5 separate regions of the Homo sapiens genome follow, and all the other regions are linked to region 2. Evidence: fine-mapped expression QTL. A gene starts in region 2. Each other region holds a variant in brackets. All regions are shown on one strand. Distances are between the middles of the regions.

Region 1 (5,107 bases), 270 kb after region 2:
GGACTGCAGGTGTGCAACACTGCATCCAGCTTTTCTTGATCTGTAATTCTTTAAATTTCTAGGGAAGACCAACATGAAAGAAAAATGTAAGCAATGGCAGTGCAGATGTGGTCTGGTGTCAATCTCCAGGGTACAATGGAGAGACTTGGAACCACATGCCCAGATGGAATGAGCTGTGCACCTGGGCCTCAATGGAGAGTCTTTGATAAATGGAAGGTGGCTTCCCAAGCAGTATGGACTTGCCTTGAACCAATGGTTTTTGTATTAGTTTTTAATTGCTACTATAACAATTACCACAAACTTAGTAGCTAAAGCAACACAAATTTATAGTCTTACAGTTCTGCAGGTAGGAAGTCTGATACAGGTCTTACTGGGCTAAACTCAAAGCATCAGCAGGGCTGTGTACATTTCTGGAAGCTCTAGGGGAGAATCCTCTTCTTTGCTTTTTCCAACTTTTAGAGGCTGCCCACATTCCTTTCCTCATGGTCCCCTTTCTCCATCTTCAAAGCCAGCAATGGCTGGTTGAGTTCTGTTCACATGGTATCACTTTGATCTTCTCTTCTGTCTTTCTCTTCCACTTTTAAGAACCCTTGTGATTATGTTGTGCCCACTCAGATAATGGAGGATGATCTCTCTATTCTAAAGTCAGCTTATTAGAAACCTCAATTCCATCTTGGTTCCCTTTTTCCATGTAACCCAACATATTCATAGGTTCCAGGGAGTAGGATATGAATATAAGTATTTTGGGGAGTCTTTACTTGCCTACCACAGTTTCCTAAAGAGTAAGGTGACTGGGGAAAAGAGGCATGTTTCAGCACATAGGGCTTATTCATTGAAGACTGGATGTTTGACTTGGAAGGAAAGCTTCCTTCCACTTGGCCAGTGAGATGCCTTTGGCAGTCACGCACACTGGCAGAGCACTAGTAGTGGAAGAGCTGTTAGCTGGCTAGCAGATAGGAGGGGAAGAGGCTGTGTCATACCTGGAAAGCCTGAAGTATCCTTGTTGCCTGAGGACAACTTGATTAAGCTGTTTCTAATGTTTGTAGAGAAGGAAGGTACTAAAGGTTTTTCCCTTAGCGAGGGAAAAGCCAAGCTGCTCCTCAGGTCAGGCATGGAGGGATGAGTGGAGAGGACCTCCTGTAGAGTTGGAATCTCAGTTAAAAGAGGTGGAAATATGAGCCAAATATATCTTTGATTGAAACAGAAACTCCCTTTCTTTCCTTTTCCCTTCCCCACCCTCACTTCCTTCCTTCTAGCTGCCAAATTTGTGCTGTTGCTGTGGTTTGGGAAGCTATGATTACATAAGCACTGCTCTTGTCTAAACAGGCTGTGTCCATAGTGTGAAAGCTAGGCTCATTCATATAGAAAACAACACTAAAGATAACAGCAAAACTTGACATCCACATTCGAAATTTTAAACTTATATTCTTTTAATGAGAGCGAAAGCAGTAATTAAAAAGGGCATGATTGGGGAGTGGGGGAGGTGTACAAAATTTACTTTAAAAATGGTACTGTTGACTGTTGGAGGCTTCTGATTTTTTTACGTTAAGCAAAATGGAAATAGTTGATTGAGACCCTAGAGAAGAATCATGTGATCTGAGTGAAAAGAAATCCACAGCGATTAGTCATCCAGTTGATGTCAAATAAATCACACAAAATGTTGCCTGTATATCGTGAAATGACTTTCTATTTTTTCCCCAGAGCAGACTACTCTTATCTTAGGTTGGTTTCCATGCATACCTAATTCCTGTTGTTTGGTGTCTGTGTGGACAGAATGATTGAAACAGCTGTGGACTTGCCTGACACTAAGTCATCAGCTATTGGAAAGAGTGCTTTGAACAAAGACATCATGCGCTGCCTGAAGGGAAGAGGAAGCCACAAACAGCATCAGAACATGAAGAAAATGTAGGTCACGGCTGCTACCCTGGTGATAGGGAGTACACTTTTATACCTTCATGACGTTGAAAGCATGAGAAGGATGCAGGGGGAATATACACCAGGAGACACATCATCTCTGAATACAAAGCGTAGAAATGTGTGTGTCTCAGACTTCCTTTTTCTTCTGAGTTAGCTCATTTAAGCAATCATATAATCGTACTTGGCGGATGGTGTGGGGCAGGGTGCATGTTTGTGCACTGTTACTGTGGAGATCTATTGCATATATTTTTAATTTTTACAATAGTTTTTGAAGGCTCTTTATATAAAAACAAAGCAAATACAAAACATTAATATACAAAGCATCAAGTCTTTAGCAAGTCTTTTGCCAAAATGAGCTTATTTCAGCATAAAGTGGAATAGCAAAATTTAAAGGAAGGGTAGGTGGCAACCTGATGAACTCCTTTCAATAAAAAGGATGTCCTAAATTTTCTTCTGTATTCATTTCTGTGCTTCCAATTTACTTGGCTCTAGATGTCTTAAATATGCTCCATGAACAGCTTTACTCGAAGGCACTAGGAATTTACAAAGGGGGAAAATTTTTAAAAAATATTGTCACACTGTTCTTTCTCCATGAAGTCCCACTTTCGCTCTTTGAGTGCTTCTTGCTGAATGTTTGCACAACATC[C/T]GGCTGCCTTTGCAGACGTGCCCTCCCACTCATCTCTATGGTTCCTTCTCTCCTTCCTTGGGCTGAGTCCTCCCCTCCTCTGGGGTCTTGATGCTTCCCAGAGCTCCTCCCTGGTAAAACTCTAAGCTGCTCTTGCAGGCTATAAGTTCATGCCCTTCCTTATGCATGGAGAATACTGGAAATAGAAGGCAGGTTATTTGTATCCATGACAATCCAGAACATTAAATTCGTCTGATAATGCTCTTTAACTTTTTGCAAGTTCTACCTGCTTTAGGCCCATCTGATAAGAATTTTAAAAAGAGGTTGGCAAACTATACCTGAGGATCAAATTCAGCCCACTGCCTCTTGTACAGCCTGTGTATTAAAGACCAATTTTATATTTTCAAATTGTTGAAAACAATTAAAAGAAGAATAATATTTCAAGACACATGAAAATCATGTGAAATTCCAATTTTGGCATCCACAAATAAAGTTTTATTGGGATTCCATTGCTTTCATTTGTTTATGTATTGTCTAAAATGTTGTTTTTGCACTACACTGGCAGAGTTGGCCTACAAAGCTGAAACATTCACTCTCTGGCTCTTTACAGAAAAAGTTTGTCAACCTCTGATTTAAACCAATTTTAAAATTTACATATTAATTTGCTAATGGTACACAAGAGAGAAAAATTTCCCAGGGCAGAAATTATATTTTTATCATTATTAAAACCTTAGTGGTTAACACAGTGATGTACTTGTAGCAGTTACTCAGTAGATATTTGTTGGAGAGATTTACAATGATCCAGCTTCTATGCAGCCTTTGGAAGAATATCTGTTTGGGGAAGCTTTGCCAGCAGGCAAGAGATTCATGTCTTTTCTCCTTAGCTTTTCTCTTCTCTGTATACATGTTGTGGAACATACACACCTAGAATGTAATCTTCTTTTTAACTGACCACAAAAATTTGGAATTTATCACACTTTCCACAATTGGAGATTTTATTCTAAAAATTATGTACTCTACTCAGAGGCTGTGTACTGGTTATCTATTACTGCATGCAAGTTACCCCAAACCCAGTGATTTAAAATAATAACCATTTTAATAAATTATTTATTTATATGACATACTTTTGTGGATTAGGAATTCAGGCAGGGCTTAGCTGGGGATTCTTCTGCTCCACACGGTTTCACTGGCATTACTGGAGAAGTATTCAGCCGGTGCCCAGGCTGCTCTGGAGGGTTCTGTGCCTGCTGCCTTGATGGGGATGGTGGGAAAGGGGGCTCAGCTGGCCCCTTCTCCATATAGTCTCAGGGCCTCTCCGTATGATCTCTTGAGCAAGGCAGTCAGAGCTGTGGCGGCTCAAAGCTCCCAGAGACCAAGGTGGAGACTGCCAGTTCTCTTAGAGTTAACGCCCAGAGGGCAGAGTGTCATTTCGGCCACACTGCATGCATCAAAGCAGTTACAAGCAAGCTCAGATTCAAAAGGAGGGGAAATAGACCCCATCTCTCAAAAGGAAGAGTGTTAAAGAATTTGTGGCCATCTTTAATCTGCCATAGGGCGCTTCTAGTTTGATTTTTAACTTCACTTATTTCCGTTATGTAGGACAGCCTCCTTTGTCCTTCTAACATATTATCTTTCTTAAACTGTCTTTTATGTTCTCATTTCTGAGCCCTGGAATTGTCAGGTGTCTAGACAAAGAGAGGACCAGCTCAGACTGGGCAGGGTTATGAGGGAATAGCCAAAGGACACTGGGTACCTTTTTCAGAAAGTGATTCTTCCCCAAAACAGTCTACTTCACCTCCTAAAATACTTAAAAGAGAAGCTAGGAGGCCTGCAGGCCCACCCTGAACCCCAGCTCTCCGGGAGAGAAGTTCTAAACTACATTCCTATATACTATACTTAAGGACATCTTACATAATATCATTTGGAAGATATACTTTTTTTTTTCTTTGAGGCAAGGTCTCACTCTGTCACCTAGGCCAGAGTACAGTGGTACAATCATGGCTCACTGCAGCCTTGGCCTCCTGGGCTCAAGTGATCCTCCCACCTCAGTCTCCCGAGTAGCTGGGACTACAGGTACCTGCCACCATGCTCAACTAATTTTTCTATTTTTTGTAGAGTGGGGTTCCACCCTGTTGCCCAGGCTGGTTTTGAACTCCTGGGCTCAAACAGTCTGCCCTTCTTAGCCTCCCAAACTGCTGGGATTACAGGTGTGAGCCACCACACCTGGCCTAATTTATTTTTTTCATTCATTGGAAAGAAGAATCAGCCCTGTCTTTCACTGTGTAGAAATAGCTAAAGAAAACACAAGCTAAGATAATGTCAGTTTAGGGCCTGGTTTATAGAATTTTTTGGAGAAAATCTAGTCACTTGTAACACACAAGAAGAACACAAATGATAAGCACACAGGATATAGATATTTAAATACATCAACATTTTATGGACAGGTAAGGTGTTCCAAACACTATAATATTTCTTCATCATCTGGGGCACTCCTTCTGCTGTGGTTTGATGACCAGAGAGGTCAGCAAGGTTATAGCCATATGTAGATTCACCAGCTGAAAGAGA
Region 2 (5,102 bases):
AAGGCCGAGTAGGGCCCCAGCCCCGGTCACTCACCACGAGCGGGATGGAGCAGATGAGCACCACCAGGGAGGTGGCAATGAGTAAGATGACCATCTGGATCTCGGCGCCCGCGATGCGGCGGAAGCTCCGGCGGCGCCGAAAGTCGCTGAGGCGCGGCAAGGCTGGGGAGGCAGCGGGGTGGCCCCGGGAGGCAACCGAGGCGGCCGCGGCCGCGTGGTGCTGCTCGGTGCCCAGCGAGGTGCGGCGCATGAACTGGCGGTGCATGCGGAGCAGCGCGCCGCACACAAGCACGTTGCAGAGGACGGTGGCGAGAATGAGGAAGGAGCTGAAGCCCGCGTACATGTAGGAGTAGGCGGCGTGCGCCGTCACGTTGGTGGTCCAGTCGATGAAGCACCAGGTGTCTGGGTACTGCAGCCGCGAGCTACCGAGACCCATGTTGGGCAGCGCGCAAAAGAGCACGTTGGACGCATAGACTGCAAAGAGCGTGAGGCCCGCCAATCGCTTGTCCACGTAGTGGCTGTAGAAATAGGCATGGTTGATGGCCAGGTAGCGCTCGACACTCATGGCGCAGATGATGCTGAGGCCGGACAGGCTGAAGAAGAGCAGAATGAAGGTGCTGTACTCGCACAGCGGCTGGCCCCCGGGCCATTGGCCCTTCATGTACGTGGCGATGGTCACCGGGCTCACCAACAAAGTGCCCAACAGGTCGGTGACAGCCAGCCCACATACCAGCGTGTAGAAGGTCGTCTCCTTCTGCTCCTTGCGCGACTTGCACAGCACCACGATGGCCACCAGGTTGCCCACCACCCCGAAGATGAACATCACCGCCGGGATGGTCACTGGGCTGTTCAGCCGGTCGGGGCTCAAGGAGGCGGACGAATTGACCCCGGGAGTGGACATGATAGTGGCTGGCGGTGCGCAGCCTTGGAGTGCAAGGCTGGGTCTGGGGATGGTAGAAGAGAGACAAAGCTGCCGTGAGCGGAAATTACCACTTGTAAGGTGTTAGACCCGCGCCCGAGAAACGATACACTGATAAGACAAGGGGAGCAACTCGATCCTACTTTCTGGATTGTAGCCACTTACCAACTGCGGCCACCAAAATCTCCAGGCTCGCGATACGTCCTGCCAACAGCACACTCTTGCTGACATTAATATTTATAAACTGATTTTCCCATTCCTCTTCCTCCCCACAATCCAACTCACTCCATTGCCAAGATGAATAAGACCCATCTCAAGGGAAAAGTAGCTCGCTAGTGCTATTCTCGATAGATTCTGAATCAATAAAATGCTCACTGAAAACAAGTTACAAAAGCAATTTGGAGAGCGCGCTCTTCCCTTCTTGGCTCTCTTCGGCGAGGGCCGCATCCCTGCGTTCTCTACCCGTTGACCCCAACGTCAGCCCAACGCCATCTCACCTGTAGCGGCAGCAGCGGTGGCAGCCTCACGAGCCCCCAGGGTCAGCCCTCAGATGTCCTGGACCCGCCTCCAACCTGCTTTCACCTTGTCCTGCTCAGTCTGGAAACTGCCAAATCTTCGGCTTCTCAAAGCCGGTCTCAGTGGCTGTCGATTTTTGGACACCGAGGTCAGAGTTGCCAGCTTTCAAAAACTTGGGAAACAAGAGGTGCAGCGGGATGGGTCAGTGAAGAATGGTGCTGGATTTCTTACTCGCTATTTTTTTTCCTTCAAAGACGAGTCCCAGCTTTGCAGTGCCCGCCGGTCTCGTCTGCGGGAGGACAGCGTTCAGGTGTGAGGCTGTGCGCGCAGGTGGCGCGGAGCCTTGGTCCCCAGCTCTGGCTGCCCTCCGCCCCAGCCACGGGCAGCACGGGCGGCTACTGGAGTTTGCGGCTGCCGCTGAGGCCGCTCCTGGCTACCTGGGGGCGGCTCGGGGTCCACTCTGCCAGAGGCTCTGGCCTGGGGCTGTTCATCTTCCTCTCGGGCTGCCGGGCTTGGAGCTCCGCTCTCGCCTTTCCACCCTCTGTACAAACTTTTCTCCTCCTCCAAGTTTCCCTGGCGGAGGCGGAGGCAAACCGCGCGCTGCCCGGGCGCCCATTGGCCGGATTGGAAGGGGGCGGAGCGCGTCCTCCCTGGGCGCCGCAGGGAAGACTGGCGGGGGGCGGTGTCTGGGCTGGGGCGGGGCTGGGCGCGCGGGGTGGGGCGGCTCCCGTGGTTTTCACGCCCTCGGAGGTGCGGAGTGGGAACTCGGAGGGGACCCTGGGAAGCCCCGGTGCTTTCCCCGGCGACCGCTTAGCCGCTCCTGAACTCGGCTTCCAGTGGGGCCACCACTGAAACCGGCGACCGTTTCCGCCTCGCTGCCTGCCGCTCGGAGTGTACTATTTCTTGAACCTCCTGTCCGCGGGCCGCAACATCTAGATCGTGGAAGAGAGGGCAGTTGTTTTAGGATTCTACCTAGGGTTGGCCGAGAAAGGAGAAGAAATACGGTGTCTGCGCTAGCGCGTGCGCCCCGGGGTTAGACTTGGGTGCGCCCAGCGGACGTGGTAGGTGGGTGGGTGGGTGGGTACCAGATTGGGCGGGGAAATAACGAAGAATCCATCCTCTCACCATAAAAGGAGTTGGAGTCAGTTGGCAGTGCCCAGACTGCGGGCTGCGCTTGGTCGGGCACCCCAGGCAAAAAAGAAAAAAAAAAAAGAGAAAGAAAGAGGAGGAGACAGTGATTGCAGCCTCTCCCGGCGCAGGTGGCAGAGCCTTGCGGCTTTGGAGAGAGGTGGAGCCTTGGTGAGGTTGGGAGGACTGCCTAACTGCGATCTTTTTCTCCATTCTTCCTCCTGGGAACTTCTCCGCCCTGAAAGGGTAGCGTGAGCTTCATGCCTTCGGCCGGCCGTGTTATACTCGTTAGACCCAATTCACCATGAATCCTTTGAAAGACTAGTGGAGAGTGAGAAGGGGGTTTCAAAGTCACTGGAGTAAAGGAATTCTCCAAGCACCACCTCATGATTAATTCTTGGAAAAGCCTGTTTGCGCGGCCCTTAGAATCATTTTGACTTCTTGTCTAATGGTGAAGTTTTTCTCTGTAATCCTTCTACTCTGTTTTCTAAAACCAGAACTAAAAACCTAAAAAATTGTAAAACTTCATGGTGTAATTAAAACCCCTTCACCATTTTTTTTAAGTAAGATTGTGTGGCCTTATTGCACAATTTAAATTCCTGGAAAAACCTCTTCCCATCTGCAGTGTACAAGCATTCTAACATATTATGTCTCCTCACAGGGTAAGTAAATAACTGGATTCTTTTATGTGATAAGCAGGTACCCATTTCTTAAATGTTATTTCGTGAACGAACAAACCTCCTAACTGGTTCTTCAGTTAGTCTCAGCAACACATGGGTAATAAGAGAAACTAAAAGGGCTTTCCGATTTCAAGTAATTACAGGTCATAAAATATCCAGAATCATATTTACTTGCAAAAGGCACTATATGGATATACTAATAAAGAATTATTCTGTTTATACTATTTACTTAATAATATGAGAAAGAAAAATACACATTTGTTAGCCAATATTAAGATTGATGGTGATTGGTCATTTTCTTAAAAATCTTCTTTTAATCAGTACTCTAATCACTTCTGTTGTCGATGCTTCCTTTGAACAGTAACCTCTAGGATTGTGTCAGCACAGAAAACAAATCAACATTAGAAAAAAGGAAACTGCACACTCTGCGCCATTCCTCACTAACCACATTGCTTTGCTATCACTCATGTCAGTTGCTTGTCAGTAAATATATGGAGGGGAGGTTGGGAAGTCCCTTATATTCACTTTCTGCTAATACAAATTTTTTTTTTCAATTTTCTTTCCATATGAAGCTTGTAAAAGAGAAAACAATTGGTTGCTATTTATTAATTTAAGAATGATGAAGAATATATTAAATATAAAAACTGAGACACACTGCTGAGATAATTAGTAACTGTTACAGGTATTAGCATGTCATTGACAAACCAGACTTGTTATCAATTGAGCTATTTTTCTTACTAGTCCTTTGAATTTTCTTTCTACAGTAGCTTTAGGAAGAAGGAAAATAAATAACCTAATGCTCAATACTAAAAAATTGTAATGAGGTTTATCTGTAGTCTCTTTTGTTGTACGATTCTTAAAACTTAAATTTAGCTTTCAAAAGTAGAAGTTGAAAGTTTAGGTAGCAAATTATTTTATTTTCTTAGTTTGAAAAACTGGGACAGTGGAGCTCAGTTTCTCTTACACTCTGCCAGGAATTTGCATTGCAAAAGGAAAGGAAAAATTGCCATAATTATGTGGGCAATTCTTGTCATTTTTTTTCAATGAAAAGATTTTTATTCTAAGCACTTTAAAAATTCTCCCTCGCAGTTTCTGCCACAATCCCTACTTCTCTATGCTGGAAGACCCCAGTTCAGTTATTTAAAACTGTCATTAAATAACTCTCTGAAGGTTTGAACTACTCCAAGAACTGTTTGATCAGTTTGATTGCTCTGTTATAGCTAATTATTTGACGAGTTTTTTGAGTAAACATATTAAGGTGGGAACCCATTTATAAACAAAGGCCGCTTGGGAGCTAGTAACCACTTTTAGTTTTCCTTGGATCAAAGGAAATATGGGACAGACAGGACCTGGGCTCAGCCAGCAGGAGTGGGGTGAGAAAGGGGATCATTTCCAGGAGGAAGGCAGCAGGATGAGTCAGATCTGGCCTGGACCCCTTCCTGAGCCGCAGCTGGCAGGATCTTAGAGCATTCCTGAAGCACTAATATTCATGTAGCAAAGCCTGTGCAAATTGTGTTTGCTTTTCTCTTTCATGACAGGCCATGCAGAGACTCAAAACAGTGTGAAAGGCATCTATCAGGTACAAATAGCAAAGTACCCTTGGACACATTTGCCCTCCACAGGCTCTTCCAGTTGGTTTAGTGGATTACAAACATGGCATTCACCTGACCCTAAGATGACTGCCTTCCCTTTTTAGTGGTACATTTCAAATGTGTGCCCTCTTAATTATTTTCATTTTCTAAGCATGAAGTTTATGCTGAGCCCAATGCCTGGAGCTGACACATGTCAGTGCTGTGATTAACTCCCCAACATCTTCATGTGGTGATAAATTACTGCTGTGGAGGCTGGCCCCTACTGAG
Region 3 (5,107 bases), 280 kb after region 2:
CAGGCATACAGGGAATGAGAAGCTATTTGAAAACGTGACTGGGAGGAAATGCTTTGTGAGAGGAGCCTTGGAGGAGAGATATGTGTGAATCATGGCCAAAAATCAGCTCAGTGGGAACCTAAAAAAACATGATGTACAAAACTTAAGGAGCTCAATTCCGCTTCAGCACTGTAGGGTGACTATAGTTAACAATAATTTATTGTATATTTCAAAATACCTGGAGGAGAAGACTTGAAATATTCCCAACACAAAGAAATGATAAGTATTTGAGGTGATGGATATACTAACTACCCTGACTTGATCACTATACATTGTACCCCATACATACGTACCTTTTTAAAAAACTGTACATAAAACTGTACAATATATAATGATATGTATATGTATACAATATATGATAATATGTACATGATAAATATGTATAATGACACATATGTATATACTTACCCCATACATATGTACAGTTTTTTAAAAATAAGGTAAAGGAAAGTCTAACAAGGATTGTGGCCTTGAAAATACTATAATTAAATCATTAATTCTCACCTTTAATTCACCTGGAAGAGTTTACCCTGCTCCCCTATCCCATCCCATTCCATTCCAATACACACATATTTTAGGTAAACTGATTGAAATTTTTTTTCTATTATGGAAGTTGGTTGTCCCAGGCCAAGAAAATAACCTACCCTAAAACTGTATTTAAATGCTTGAAAACTTGAGTCTCAAAAAGGGATGCAAATATGAAGTTATGTCCAAAATTCCCACTCATTAGAGAATGTAAATGAGAACAATATTGAGATAGCATCATTTTGCTGATCAGACTAGGGACAAATAATCATGCATAGATGGTATTGGCACTCCCACCCCCACATCCTTTTGGCCGATCCCAGAGTTTGTCTGCAGACATTTCTCAGACATGACAACAAATTCCTGCACCTTTCCTCCAGTGGGCTATCTTTGGACACAGGAGCATGCTTTGTCCCTGCACAGGTCAGATGGGAAGTAACTGAGCCAGAATGCCTTGGAGTACCTCCAAACTACTAAGGGCTGGTGAATAAATACTTCACATCTTTGCCTTTTGTTGGAACAATCCTAAGTTGTGTTCCATATGGCCTTTCCATGGGTCTCCAGAATAATTGAGCCCAATTGCCCATACAGTAGGGTAACCAACTTATCTCTGCTTTTCTAGAACTGTCCCAATTTTAGCATTGGAAATTCTGTGTCCTGGGACACCCCATTGATTCCATGCAAACTGTGATAGTTGACCACACTACGAATAGAGGTAACTGGCTAGTCAATGTTCTGTCTATTTGTTCCCCACTTCTTGTCTTACTCCTTGCAACCTCATAGTGATTCCTGGAATTAACTTCAAAATAAACTACAGATGCTCCCCCATTTACAATGGGGTTATGTCCTGATAAACCATTGTAAGTTGAAAATATGACTAAGTCAAAAATGCATTTAATATACCTAACCTACCAAACATCATACTTTAGCTTAGCCCACCTTAAACATGCTTGGAACACTTACATTGGCCTATAGTTGGGCAAAATCATCTGGCAACACAATGTACTGTACAGTACTGGTATTTTTACCTTTGTGTGGCTGAGTGAGAGCTGCAGCTTACTGCATGGCCCAGCATCATGTGAGAGAATCACACTGTTTTCTACTGAATGTCTATAGTTTGTGCACCATTGTAAAGTTGAAAAAGTATAAGTGGAATCATTGGAAGTCAGTGACCATCTGTATTGCCTTCACATTTTTGTCTCAGGACCTGCTTTCAGGGGAATTCAAGTGAAGCCAGTTGATGATATCCACACTGTGAGGGTGTAAAGAAATAAGGCGACTCATACATTGTGTGGAAAGCAGAAATTTTCATAGCCCTTTGGAGGGTAATTGAACAGGCTTATGAAGTAAGAAAGTAATATGAACTGTCAGTGTGACTCTAAAGCTCATGACTTGCATTTTAAAAATGCATACACTTTGAATCAGGAATTCTTTGTCTAAGACTTTCTTTAGTAGTAATGCCCAAATGAGCACAAAGATGTAAACATGAAGATGTCCTCTGTGGATTGTCACACAATAAAAAAAATTAAAAATATCTGTCAATGTATGTCAAAATATCACTAGTAGGGGAATGATTTAGCAAATTTGTAGTATAAGCATTCCATAAAACACTATGAAGCTATTAAAAAGCATGAGGTCAATTTGTATTATACTGGTAAGAGAGACGTTTATGATATATTAGTAAGCAAAGATAATCAAATTAAAAATGTGTATCATGCTTTCTATATATCTGCATTTTTTCTGTCTCTTCCTGGAAACACGTGTATACACACACACACACACACACAAACACGCAAACACACAAATTATTAACATAATACCACTGGAGTGGGAGTTGACTTGGAGGTGAAGGTGGAACAGAAGAGGTTATGAAGGAAATTGCCTCTGTTTATTTAACGATGATAATGATGAAGTTTCTTTTTACAATGGGTGCATATTATTTTTAAAATGGAAAAAATAGAAAATGCATTGCATTTGGAAATGAACACCTGAAGTATGCTTCATCATTTTAATTTTTCATAAACTCCATCAATATTGGCAGCAAGAGAACTCGAGATTTGAGCTGTATGTTCTTCT[A/G]TCTTACATATACCAGTGTAAAAGTGTGTTGTAACCAAATTTAAGCATATAGGTAACCTAAAAGGTAATTCATTAGATAAATTGTCCTATTGGATAATTGGTAGATATCCAATGGCTGTTGACACCATTGTGTTATAATCAATTGCTTGCTCTTTTAAAGATGAGAAAGACCACATAGAACATATATTAGGCCGGTGCAAAAGTAATTGCAGTTTTTGCAATCGAAAGTAATTGTAATACTTCAAACACTCATTATAGTTTTCAAAAGCAAAGAAGAAAAACCATAATTACAAGGGCAAACAGGAAATTAAAATCAACTCTAGATGTATACCTAAACCTCTTCCATTTTTTTTGTTTCTTTATTCAGGAAATTAAATGATGTTGAATGACAAAGATCTGCAATCTCTCAAGTGGTTGAGAGGAAGTATGACATTGACTTAGGAGAAGACTATGGCAAATGATGCTGTAGTCAGGAAGAATGAATAGATTTGAAAAAATACAGAGAAAAACTAACCACAGAAAGAGTCAACTCATTGTTGCCTATGGGTGTTTTTGTCTCCAGTTTGTTTTCCATAGACTTCAATGAGTGTGGATGGGTTTGAGAGATTATGTACTCCCTAGTCACAGTGAATCTAACAATGAAGTAAGAAAGACATGTGGTTGGCGCTGAGAAACATGGTCTCTGCTTGGCCATGTGATTATGAGCAAAGCATCCTCAGCTTAACCTTCTGTAGACTGGGAATAATTATGTTAACTACAAGTTGCTCTGAAGATTAAATGAGAAAATGTACACCAAATCACTTGGTTTAGATAGCACTACTCGTGTTGATTTTTATTATTATTCTATTTCAATTTTTTAAAATTCTTGTGTTGGAGTGAATAATAGTAAGAAAACCAAAAAAACTTAAGTAATACATGATTTTTGTAAAACTGCTCCTCATGACCTTTAACATGATCAATGTGGCTGGTAGATATCCATGGATACTCAGGAGGAACAATTAAGCTGACATTGATAAGAAGCAGCAAATAGTGTCTATTAAACCTGCTTGGTTAATAATATAGGGTTAATTCATTCAACTGGTATTTATTAAGTATGAACTACGGTTCATGCACTGTTTTAGATGCTATGGACAGACAATATTGAGTACAACAGGGATTCCACCCCAACAACTTAGAATCTAGTGCAATTTAAAAGCATTAAAAATAACAATCATAATTCCAAATAGAATACCAACAGCTGGAATCAGTCAGTCCTTTTTCCTACTAAAATCTCTTTAATCATACCTCCAAAACATGGACCCTAACTATAAAAATACAGAGATTTTGTCCAGTTCTAAAGTTCTGTGAGCGATTACCCTCAACTTGGGTTTAGCAGGGAAGGCTTCACAGAAAACTACTTTTGAGTTCATCTTTGAAGAATGGGTAAGATTTCCCTAGGGAGGGAAGAGGAACATGGCTTTTCAGGCTGTGGGAAGTATGCAATTTCTCTGGCAAGTGTCAAGGGTGGAAGGATGAAAGGGGGATTGAAAGTGGAAATTTGTAATCACGTGTTGTCACTAGCCAAATTCTCTGTCTCAATTGTCTTTATCCTCTCTTCACCCAGCACTAAGATGCTAGAAGAGCTGATTCTTCTTACTCTTAGGTGACATCTTACAAGCTAATGTGAATGGAGGACCACTGAAAGATCCTCCTAACCTCCAAATTCTAGGACCGCAAATCTGCTGAAATGCCAAAATTTCCATCATGAGGATTAGGGCTTCAAATTAAGTCATGGAGGGCATTCTTTTAAAGATATTCATAAAATTGGTGGTGGTGGCTTGGTTAGTGACCAAGATGATAACATTTTTCTATGAAATCACTCATCTAAGTTAGAAGGATGTAGGGATTTCCTAAATATGAAAGAGAAAAAGAGGAATGGGCTGGGGCAGTAGTCCTTGCCTTGAAATTCCTGAACTCACTGGGGTTTAAGAAACTTAACATCAATTGGTATAATGATAATAATGCCAATGATTACCATAGCAGCAAAAGCAACAGCAAAAACAATGAAAAATTTGTTTTCATTGGGTGCTTATGTTATGCCTGTGTTTTACATACTTTCTTTATTGTCACCATACCTTATGGGCTTGATTTATTATTCTCACCTTCTAGATAAAGGAACTGAGACTTGAAGAGGTTAAATAACTTATTAAAGATCGCAGAACCAGTTAGTGGCATAACTAGAATATGAACTTCTGTTAGTGTGACTCCAAAGCCCATGACTTGAGAACATCAAGTCACCAAGGGGACAATCAAAACAAACACTGTTTACACCATATCTTTATGTACATTCAGACCTGGGTACATAAGAGGATCATGCCAAATAAGGGATAGGTAGTGGTAGAGCCATGGCTCCAGTCCCCTTCTTTGGTCACCCTTGGTTATGGATAAGTTATGGATACTAGGAAGCACTTTGAATCAATCCCAGTGT
Region 4 (5,107 bases), 370 kb after region 2:
ATATTAACTCTAATACCATGCTTGCCAAAACTTCCATTAAAGACATATGCCTTGACTCATTGATTCCAATAATAGGGAAAAAGCACCATTTCCCAGCAGCTGGAGATTTGATGTTGCTTTTGAGGAAAAAAAATGATCCCGCCAAAATATTTATATAGCTTGAGAACTCAAGAAGCCCCTTAGTAAGTGGGCAGGATTCTATGATCTCTAGTAGCACAGGAATCGCTAGTTTTTGAGGAAGTCTAAAATGGCTCATAGAGAGCACATGGATGAGACAAGTAACATAGAATAAAAGTTAAAGTAATAATGTTGGGAAGGACAGACATCTAGAAGAGAAGCAAAAATAAAACAAATCTCAGACTAAGAATAGTATCATCATTAAACTTAAACTTAATACTCAGATTCTCAGTAGCCCAGGCAAGAGGGAAACTAGATGATGATGTAGTTCTTATTGTCTAACTACAAGATGTACCTATTTTAGCTCATTAAACAAAACCCAAACCTTTTCCTGGTCCTTTGATTAGAGGTGAATATATTATGATGTCTTTATGTATTATGACAGCATTGAATAATATTATGAACCTCAACCTGCAGGTTGGTAACCATATCTATAAATGTAGTCAAGCACACAAAATTATCTACTCAAAGCCTTTTTTCTTTTTACTAAAAATTCTTACAGATTACACGTTCAGTGTTTTTATTTTGATTTTTTTACCTTAGCCCTTGGTGACAGTCAAAAACTTTAAATGATAATTATGTAAAGACAAGTTTACAGGGGCCTGGGGGTAGACATTGAGTGATATGTTCAAAATACATACCTGTCATGTATGTACAGGATAAAACGTTGGCTCCAGGCCTTGCTTGCACTTCCAGATTTATTCTGACATTCTCATATAAGCTTCTACCATCCATTTCTATTGAATCATCTGCAGTTGCCCTGAATATGTCATGTTGCCATTTGCCTTCTTGCCCTTTCATTTGGCCTGCCTTTATCTGGAACACTTCTCCATAGCCATTCAATTTTGCCTTTTTCTTATGCTAACTCTAGCACTGCCTACTGCCTAGGGGAACAAAGGGCATGGTGCTGGGTACTTATAGGCACCAGAACATTCCTGAGGACTCACACCACAGGGAAAGGTAAGCTATTCACTTCTTGTGCCATCCACTCACAATTTTAGGGAAAGGTATATAAATTAATGGATTCAATAAACATTAAACTAAATGGAACATTTTGTCTCTTTCTTCCACTAACCAATGTCTTGGGCTTAAGTGAAAGATATTTAAAGAAAATTAAGAAATTAAATTTTCTATGTATTTCTGAGTGGTAGCATGATGAATTTTGTGACCTCTCAACATGCCCAGTGAGGAAAAAAATTCTTTTTAAACACACTGTAGTTATAGAAGATATTTGCCAGGGTGTATGCATAAAAAAGTTTCATAAACCTTGGATGCCAGGCCACAGACAAACTTCTAACAAGTCCTTTTTCCTTCTCAGGGCTCTGTACTCATTGCTCTTCATCCCACTGCTGTGTGCTATTGTCTTTGTGATCTTCATGATTGGATTTTGCTTCTTCAAGGAAGATATAAAAGAGCCCAAGTAATTCTGGAAACCAGCATTTTACCCTTGACCTCCTGCTTTTCATCCTACTGGTCCTCGCCAGAAGTCGCTGGTTGCCTGGTATAAGAAAACAATCATAATTATCTCATTAATACTTGGACCTGGCCTCCCTGCTAATCAGGTTTGTACTGCTGAGATTTCAAAGGAGAACAGAAATCTACTAAGAAGAAATAAATTGGTTCTCAGGCTATAAATAGTTCTAGGAAGCTGCCCAGGGACAAAAATTTGCCTGCTGGTGAAATAAAAGACCATGTAAACTGTAGATTTATTTGGAGAGTATAGTTCCATGAATTTAACTGGTCTAGACTCTGGGCCTCTGGAAGGCAGAGACCATGCTCTCAGCCTTGCCTTTAGTACCTTGTCTGTAACAGGCTATCAGATATGTTGATTGTGTCAAAGATAAGCAAATTCTGAAATGAGTAATTTTTTTCATTCTCTATCCTCTCTGAATTCACT[T/G]AGTGCCTCTCAGAATGTGTCTGAGTGGAAAGGGATTTGCACAGGATATGTCCAAACAGGTTATTGTAACTTTGGAGGTAAACTCTTGTCTATCATTCCATGCACTTCATTATTATTTATATCCATTTCTTTCTTTCTTTCTTTGTTTATTTATTTAAGTAATTGGTCATGAAATAGACTTGCATGCTGAATACTGAAATGTGGTGTTTGACACTTGTAAATTATTCCAGATTATATATGAGACTATAATAGATAAAAGTGATTTAGATAATAAAGTGATCTGTAATTGAAGTAAATGAGAGCTGGGTGCTGTGGCTAATGCCTTGTACTCCCAGCACTTTGGAAGGCTGAGGCAGTAGGATCGCTTGGGTCCAGGAGTTTGAGACTAGCGTGGCAACATAGCTAGACCCTGTCTCTACAAAAAGTAAAAAATTAACCAAGTGTGGTGATGCGCACCTGTAGTCTCAGCTACACAGGAGGCTGAGGTGGGAGGATCACTTGAGCTCCAGATGTTGAGGCTGAAGTGAGCCATAATCATCCTACTGCACTCCAGCCTGGGTGACAGAGGAAGACCATGTCTCAAAAAAAAAAAAAAAAAAAAGAGAAGTAAATGAAAACTTAGAGAAATAGTAGTTGCAACTTCCAAACCAAAGCTTGTAATTCTGGTCACTATGACTTGGAAATATTTTCCAGAACAACTGTGACTCTTGCCGTTGCTCTATAAAATACTGGCAAGGTCCAAAAGGGAATTTTCCCCCACTGTGTATAATATTATTAGACAGATGGTATTGTATAGATGTTCATAATGATAATTTTTTAAAATTAGCACAGCAAATATTAACTGAACATGATCTTCATGTCCTGTTCCACACAGGTTGTATTTGTTGATGTGGACTCTGATAAAACTGAAAGTTCTTTACTAATGAATGCAAAACCATCTCATTGCTTACATTCTTTCTAGAATTTGCATATGCAAAGATACAAATTCCAGAAATAGCACTCAAGAGAACAGTCTGTAGAAATCTTGTCTAACAACTCTAAATTTTCAATCAGCATTGAATCAGAATTATAGCCATAGTTCTCTGAATTATTCATGATAAATAGATGACTGGCTACCCATGGGACTCTGATACAGCGCTTTCAATGTGGTAAAATAATTAGAATTGTCATATCCACTCTTTGTAAAATTATGAGAACTGTTATTTATTAATAGCAAATGTCATAACATAATCCAACTGTTATTTTCCTATCTAATTAAAGAATATGTGTTCTGATTCTGAGGCTTAATTGTTTGTTTACCAGCTGGAAGCAAGCAATGTAAGGAATCTTTTTTGTGTGTGTTCTTAATTTCCAGATGATCCCCAATATGCCGTGGTTACAGAGGGCATGGTCACTTGGTAGGATATCTACCCTTGGAGATGAATTTCTCAGGGATTGCTTTTGAACCATCATTTATTTTCCTTAGGAGAAAAGTAGACAATACCATAAGTAAATACGCATTTTTTTTGTTTTCCCGAAACCTAGAAATGTCAGAGCTAATAAAGAGCAATTAGGAATGAAAATACAATCCATTGAATCAGATAAGAAACAAACTTAGCAGGCTGCTTCTTGTTGCTGTTATTCAATTCATAAAAAAATGTCATCCACTCAAAATCATTTGATTTTCTGCAGAAAATTCCTTGATAAAAAAAAGATCCTGGGGTTTATGTAGGGCATTACCCCATTTAGTGAAAAACTCACCCATTTCTTTCCTCCATAAATGTGTCATTTTTAGATCAACTAAGTACCAAGGAAGCTATTCTCTGATATAATGAAGAGAAAAGAATCTTGAACCTGGTAAGAGTGGTTTCAAGCCAAAACAGATAATTTCTACAGAATACAATAAATGCTCTTTGGCTCTGTGTAGTGATATTGCCTCCCAGACATTTTAAGACTTAAAACCTAAAGAATGGGTTTATTTTAAATTAATAAATGAATAGAAAAGAATAAAATCTTGTTTGTTAATGTCAAACTTCCCTAGCCTTTTTCTAATCATCTTATCAATACTTTGTATTTTTTTCCTATCCCTTTTCATTCTTTTGGCATTTACTCAAGGTCTCTCTTTTGGCCTTTTGTTGCTCTGTGTTCTCTCTCTAGGCCATCTCAACCACTCTCATCACTTCAACCATCTTGAATGATTTGGAAACCTGTATTGGGTTCCAACATTTTCTTGTGGTCCAAAGTGATAACAACAACAAGCTGGGCATGGTGGCTCATGCCTGTAATCCCAGCACTTTGGGAGGCCGAGGTGGGCGGATCACCTGAGGTCAGGAGTTTGAGACCAGCCTGGCCAACATGATGAAACCCCGTTTCTACTAAAAATACAAAAATTAGCTGGGTGTGATGGCTTGCACCTGTAGTCCCACCTACTTGGGAGGCTGAAGCAGGAGGATTGCTTGAACCTGGAAGGCAGAGGTCGCAGTGAGCTGAGATCATGCCACTGTGCTCCAGCCTGGGCAACAGAGTAAGACTCCAACTCAAAAAAAAAAAAAAAAACCCACAAAGTGATAACAACAATAATGGCAACATTCATTGTATACTTACTATGTGCTGGGCACTGGGTTAACAAGTGAACACGCATAATCTCATTTAATTCTTACAACCACCTGTGAGGTAGATGCCATCATCATCTTCATTTTGCAGGAGAAAAAACTAAAGTTGAGTGATATCACACAATTCTCCTAGAGTCATGCAGATAATAAACAACTAAGCTGGGTTTTAAACCCTGACAGTTTGACTCTAAAGTGAGTGCTTTTGTTTTCAACCACCTGCTAAGCATCTTCCCTTGAATCTCCTATAGGCCTCTTAAAGCCAATCTACATAAAACACATTTCCAATTATTCCTGCTTCCCTTTTGGCATTAATTCATGTATTCAACCAATAAGAATTAATCAAGCATCATGGAGAGTCACATGAAAGCCTATGCACTAAGGATAAAATTTTGAACAAAATAATAGTGGTTCCTGCGTGTATAGAGTTTACTTTTCAGAGAGC
Region 5 (5,107 bases), 78 kb before region 2:
CCTCTGCCTAGCACTGCTCTTTTTGATGTTGTAGTGACACCATTTACATTGAATTAATGCTTGGTAGCCTGGGGCTAGATGTGGAACTCCATGGATCTGTGTTCTGACTGGCACCTTTGGAATGAAAGAAAAGTGTGTGCTGTCCAAATTTTTTCCCCTTAATTCTTTCCCTCATCTTCTCACCCATAATAGAAATTTTATTTCCATTGTGAGTTCTGACAAGAATGAAATTCCACATACAACATAACTGTAAATTGTTGGTAGGTAGAAGTTAATATTTGTGGTTCATGTATATTTTGACCAGAGTATATTTAAGTATATAATTTCAGCTTCCTTGATTTAGAAATATGATATAATAAAGAAAAACTCCATTTATCATCTGTTACAATGTACTTATGTTTTTTAACCTCTGGGAAAACTCAGTGGAAAAAAAAAAAACTAAGTATCTGTGCACCTTTCTTTCTAACAATGTACCGGCTAGGTGCGGTGGCTCACACCTGTAATCCTAGCCCTGTGGGAGGCTGAGGTGGGTGGATCACCTGAGGTCAGGAGTTCAAGACCAGCCTGCCAACATGGTGAAACCCCGTCTCTACTAAAAACACAAAAATTAGCTGGGCGTGGTGGCGGGCACCTGTAGTCCCACCTACTCGGGATGCTGAGGCACGAGAATCGCTTGAGCCTGGGAGGTGGAGGTTGCAATGAGCCGAGAACATGCCACTGAACTACCAGTCTGGGCAAAAGAGTGAGACTCTGTCTCAAAAAAAACCCCACCAAAACAACAACAAAAAAAGTACCTAGAAATATAAAATATAGTGCCTGGCCACATTTAAATTGTCAAACATTGTGATTTTTATCTCGACTACATGAGTCTTGATTTCATCTAAAAACCAACCACTTGAATAAAACATGATAGATACAATAAAAGCCAAAGCAACTGCCATTTATCAGTTGCTAACACTTGATTTGGTTAGAATCCTACTACTGTTAGAATTCAATTAATATTAAATATTGTATCCATATGACATGATTAGGCAGGGGCTTGTGCTAGATTGTTGACACTCTGTTATCTTTAAAACAACAAAAGAAAACTGCTAAAGAGTGCTATGAGTAGTATATAAGGTTTTTTTAGGGAATGTATAAATTGCTGTAGGTATTTACCTTGGCTGTACAAGAATTGTCCAAGAAATTCTTGTTTGAAAAATCAGAATTTTTGAACTCTTTTATTTATTGTAAATAAACTATTTACTGTAAATGCCAATAAATTATGATAAATTTAAAGGATTTTGGAAAATGATCATGTTGTCTTAAAAAGACAGCATAAGACATATATTAAATATATTAGGTGAATCAAGATCATAGACCAGTCAGAGTTAGTAGAGAAGTAGTGGGTGAAGTATAAAAACTTAGTGGGAGCTACCCTTAAACACAGTAGAGGAGATCAGGGTTAGGTTACTTGAGAGATTTAGCAAAGACCCCTAGGTAGGGGGCACAGCTTCAAGTACCATTTACTCACTCTGCAACCTCTATTCCTTCTTATTGGCTACTATGAACTAATGACACTATGAATGTGACCATAAGATAAATCTTCCCTCTGCATGTCTTGTTAGGGAGGTACATGTTTTCTTATTTAAGACTTTCATAGACATATATACAGAAAAGTGCACAAATGAGTATTTGGCTTAATGAGTTTTCAGTATTTCAGGTACACAGGAAACATGACCATGTAAACCTCTAGGCAGATTAAGAAACATTGCCACCATCTTAGTGTCTTTCATAATTAATATCGGAAGTGATAAACGGTCACTTCTGCCCTCTTCTGTAGGTAACACAGACCAACCGTGGTACAATATAGGAAGGCAGTGCATAAGGATGTGAATGCCAGGAGTGAATGCCATCTTGGAGGCTGGCTACCGCAGTCATGCATTGATCGTTTTCAAATACTACTGGTTCACTTATGCAGCCTGCACAAATATTGATGTATTTAAGCAAACAATGTAAATAAAAGTCACAACTGATAATCACTTATATCAGAAAATTCTGGAGATACTGGGAAGCTGCCAAGATCATTATGGTGAATACCATTTTTCCAAAATCATATTTTTTTTTTGCCTAAAATCTTGAATTTTATCATTGGCAACAAACTCAATTTTTTTTTCTTTCCTCCCTCCCTCCCTATTTCTCTTTTTTCCTTTCCTTTCCCCTTCCCCTTTCCCTTTCCTTGTTTTTCTTGAAGTTACAGATTCCCTTTGTTCATTTTCAAGAAAGGTTTGTCAAATACCCAAGTCCGAATAACCGGTTTGTCACTCATCTTAGTAAAATTTGTGTTCCAGGAAAAAAAAGTATTTACTTCAGTTTATAATGCCATCTCACAGTAGCTCTTCTTTGATACGTCATACTTCAATATGCAGCAGAAGTACTTTGTGAGGACTTCCAAGTTTTTACAAAGAATATTAAGTGTCGGAGTGGTTATAATAAAGTAACTTTTACAACTTCATCAGGGATATTCTCTGGTGACAGCGTTCATTTTTCCATTTTTTTTTTTTTTTTT[G/TG]AGACCGTGCCTTGCTCTGTCATCCAGGCTGGAATGCAGTGGCATGACCTCGGCTCACTGCAGCCTCGACCTCCCAGGCTCAAGGGATCCTCCCACCCCAGCCTCCCGAGTAGTTGGGATTCAGGTGCGTGCCGCCAGGCCTGGCTAATTTTTGTATTTTTGGTAGAGATGGGGTTTCGCCATGTTGGCCAGGCTGGTCTCGAACTCCTGACCTCCCAAAGTGCTAAGATTACAGGCGTGAACCACCGCGCCCGGCCCATTTTTCTTACTGTGAGCGTGTGGTGGTGAAGAGCTCCAGTACGGTTTGGTGTCATTACTGTAATTCCTGTGGAGGGGCCAGCACCTTGACCTACCATTGCTTTTCCACCATCAGTGCAAATGTCAGCATTGTGCAAAGGGCAAATCACGTCTTCATATTAGTATGAAAATAATTTTGGCTTTGAAAGGGTGTCATTGACCCTCAGGACAATCGTTGGTCGACATCAGTGGTTCTCAACGGGGCAGGGTGGGAGGGATAGTTTTTCTTCCAGGGGAAATTTCACTGGGGAAACCATTGGCTGTCACAATCGACTGGTGGTGACATCCCGTGGACAGAGACCAGAGATGCTGCTAAGCACCCTACAATGCACAGAACACCCCGTCCCCCAACAAAGCATTATCCAGTTTGAAATGTTAATGGTGCTGAGGCTGAGAAAGTATGACTTCCAAAAATGAGTCTTTTGGGCAGGAGAGTTGGAGAAATTAACAATCTTGATTACCTTTATTACATGTGCTCGTTTATTTTCAAGACATGATGCACAGCTACGTTCTGGCTGTAATTCTGCCTTCTGGGTCCAACTCACTTGTAACTTTAACGTGAAGCCTGCAGTTCAGCCTCGAGCCTCCCTGACTAGCCTCCCCGCCCGGCCGCCTCGAGCCCTTTATAACCGAATTTTGCCTCTCTGTTCTCTGCGTCTGGCCGACCTCATCAGCTAGGCTATAAACCCCTTCGGGGAAGGAGCATATCCTAATCCTTTGAATCCCGTAAAATAAGTTTTCCCCTCACCTTGTTCCCCACTGACGGGACGCGAGGCTGCGCGGTACCGCGGGGGCGGCTCCTCTCGGTGCGCTCTTCAGCCCGCGCAGCCTCATTTTCCCGCGCTCGTGCGCTGCGGTCACTCAGGGCTGCTGCTAGAGGGCGCGCCCAGCCGCGTGGCCCTGACTACTACAAATCCCAGAAGGTCATGCAGTGGGGGCGGCCGCGGTGACTTCTGGGATTTGTGGTCCCGGAGAAGAGATTGGCGGAGGGGAAAGACTGAGTCGTCTTTCCTTTGCCCGCTTCTGTGGACTGTTCGAACGCCCAGGGGTGGGCCAAACCCGTTTCTTAGGAAACCAGGAATCCAGGGAAGGCAGGTAGGAATTTGGGCGTGATAATTTCTGCTTCCAGTGGGAAAGAATGTAAACACGGGGCCTTGGGAGCCGTTATCGGGTAACTGGGGCTGCCCGGTCGGCGGTGGAAGCTGAGGAAGAGGAGGAAAAAGAGGCGAGTGGGTGTTGTGATTAGGGGAGAAAGGACCTTCGGAATAGGAGTTGAAACCCGACGGGATCCGGCAGAGCCTGGTCGCTAGGGTTGGTCTCCAGGGACAAGCGAGTCTGAGGGTCGGGCCCGCCGTGGCACCTTCGCGGAGCTGCGCGGCCGCAACCTTCCCTGAGCGGTGGGACGGGCGGGACGAGCCGGCCGCTCCCCGCTGGAGAGGTGTCTGCGGCCCGGGGCGGTCCGTGAACGCGCAGGTGACGTCCGGGGCAGCCTTTCTGAGCGTTTTTATTATTGTTGACCGATGAAGGGAAAGTCACTAATACTGGTTTTTCTCTTGCGGTGGCGTTTTTGGGTAAATCGTTTCTTGGATTCCTCACCTCTGAATACCTCCTTTTACCCAGAAGGATGCTGTTGTGATTTCCTGATCTTGTTCATGTAGTGGTTTTTCCCTTTGGGTGCTGCATCCTCAGACACACTCAAGACAAGCCCTCTCTGGCGGCTGGGTAAATGTGAAGCCGTCGCCAGTTGTTGAGCGCCTACTATAGGGATCTTTGTAACAGTACAGGAATTTAGAATACAGCGTCGTTGTTTAGAATCGTTATGCCATTCCTGAAATATAATCCTATATAAAAGGTTGAATTTGTCTGGTTTCATGAGTTTAACATGAAACCGGTGTGGATTGTGGTTTACTCTCATGGTTTCTTACTCTGGTAAAAAAATGTTAAGTCTAGGATGTTGAAGCCTCGTGCTTCTAACTAGACTCAGGAAAGCCTCCTTCATAAGAAGTTTTAATTTCATGTTCAGATAGTCATAGAGGAACAATAAACTCGTTCGGCTTAAGATATCTGAAACAACTGGGAATGTTAAATTTTCTAATGCAGAAAGTGCTTTGCATGCTCTAGGATTCACATACCTTTTTAAGCCTGGCTAAGTTTTCTTCAAAGCTTAAGTCCTCCAGAAAGCCTCAAGTGTCTCTTCTCTGATGTCATGGCATCCTTTGTTTACTCTCTTGTAGCACATATCGTGTATGAAATTGACTGTAC

Evidence for each region. PIP is the estimated chance that this variant, and not a neighbour inherited with it, causes the effect.
Region 1: its variant is fine-mapped to the expression of PTGER4 in whole blood (TOPMed, PIP above 0.99).
Region 3: its variant is fine-mapped to the expression of PTGER4 in whole blood (TOPMed, PIP above 0.99).
Region 4: its variant is fine-mapped to the expression of PTGER4 in whole blood (INTERVAL, PIP above 0.99).
Region 5: its variant is fine-mapped to the expression of PTGER4 in whole blood (INTERVAL, PIP above 0.99).

Annotation. Positions count from the first base shown.
Region 1 is chr5:40,407,270-40,412,376 of GRCh38, reverse strand. No RefSeq gene overlaps it. Among named protein-coding and RNA genes, the nearest start is that of LINC00604, 170 kb to the right of the region's middle. The variant C/T (reference allele first, on the strand shown) is at 2,564.
Region 2 is chr5:40,676,793-40,681,894 of GRCh38, reverse strand. It overlaps PTGER4 (prostaglandin E receptor 4), which reads right to left and starts at 1,980. Exons shown (of 3, transcript NM_000958.3): 1 at 1,417-1,980; 2 at 35-944. The coding sequence starts at 901. RefSeq lists an enhancer at 435-962 and a silencer at 2,098-2,317.
Region 3 is chr5:40,396,331-40,401,437 of GRCh38, reverse strand. No RefSeq gene overlaps it. Among named protein-coding and RNA genes, the nearest start is that of LINC00604, 160 kb to the right of the region's middle. The variant A/G (reference allele first, on the strand shown) is at 2,641.
Region 4 is chr5:40,305,014-40,310,120 of GRCh38, reverse strand. It overlaps LOC105374736 (a long non-coding RNA gene), which reads left to right. Exons shown (of 4, transcript XR_001742649.2): 3 at 1,049-1,137; 4 at 1,496-3,348. Among named protein-coding and RNA genes, the nearest start is that of LINC00604, 67 kb to the right of the region's middle. The variant T/G (reference allele first, on the strand shown) is at 2,075.
Region 5 is chr5:40,754,657-40,759,763 of GRCh38, reverse strand. TTC33 (tetratricopeptide repeat domain 33) reads left to right here and starts at 3,803. Exons shown (of 5, transcript NM_012382.3): 1 at 3,803-3,940. PRKAA1 (protein kinase AMP-activated catalytic subunit alpha 1) reads left to right here. Exons shown (of 9, transcript NM_006251.6): 9 at 1-375. RefSeq lists an enhancer at 3,780-3,929. The variant G/TG (reference allele first, on the strand shown) is at 2,549.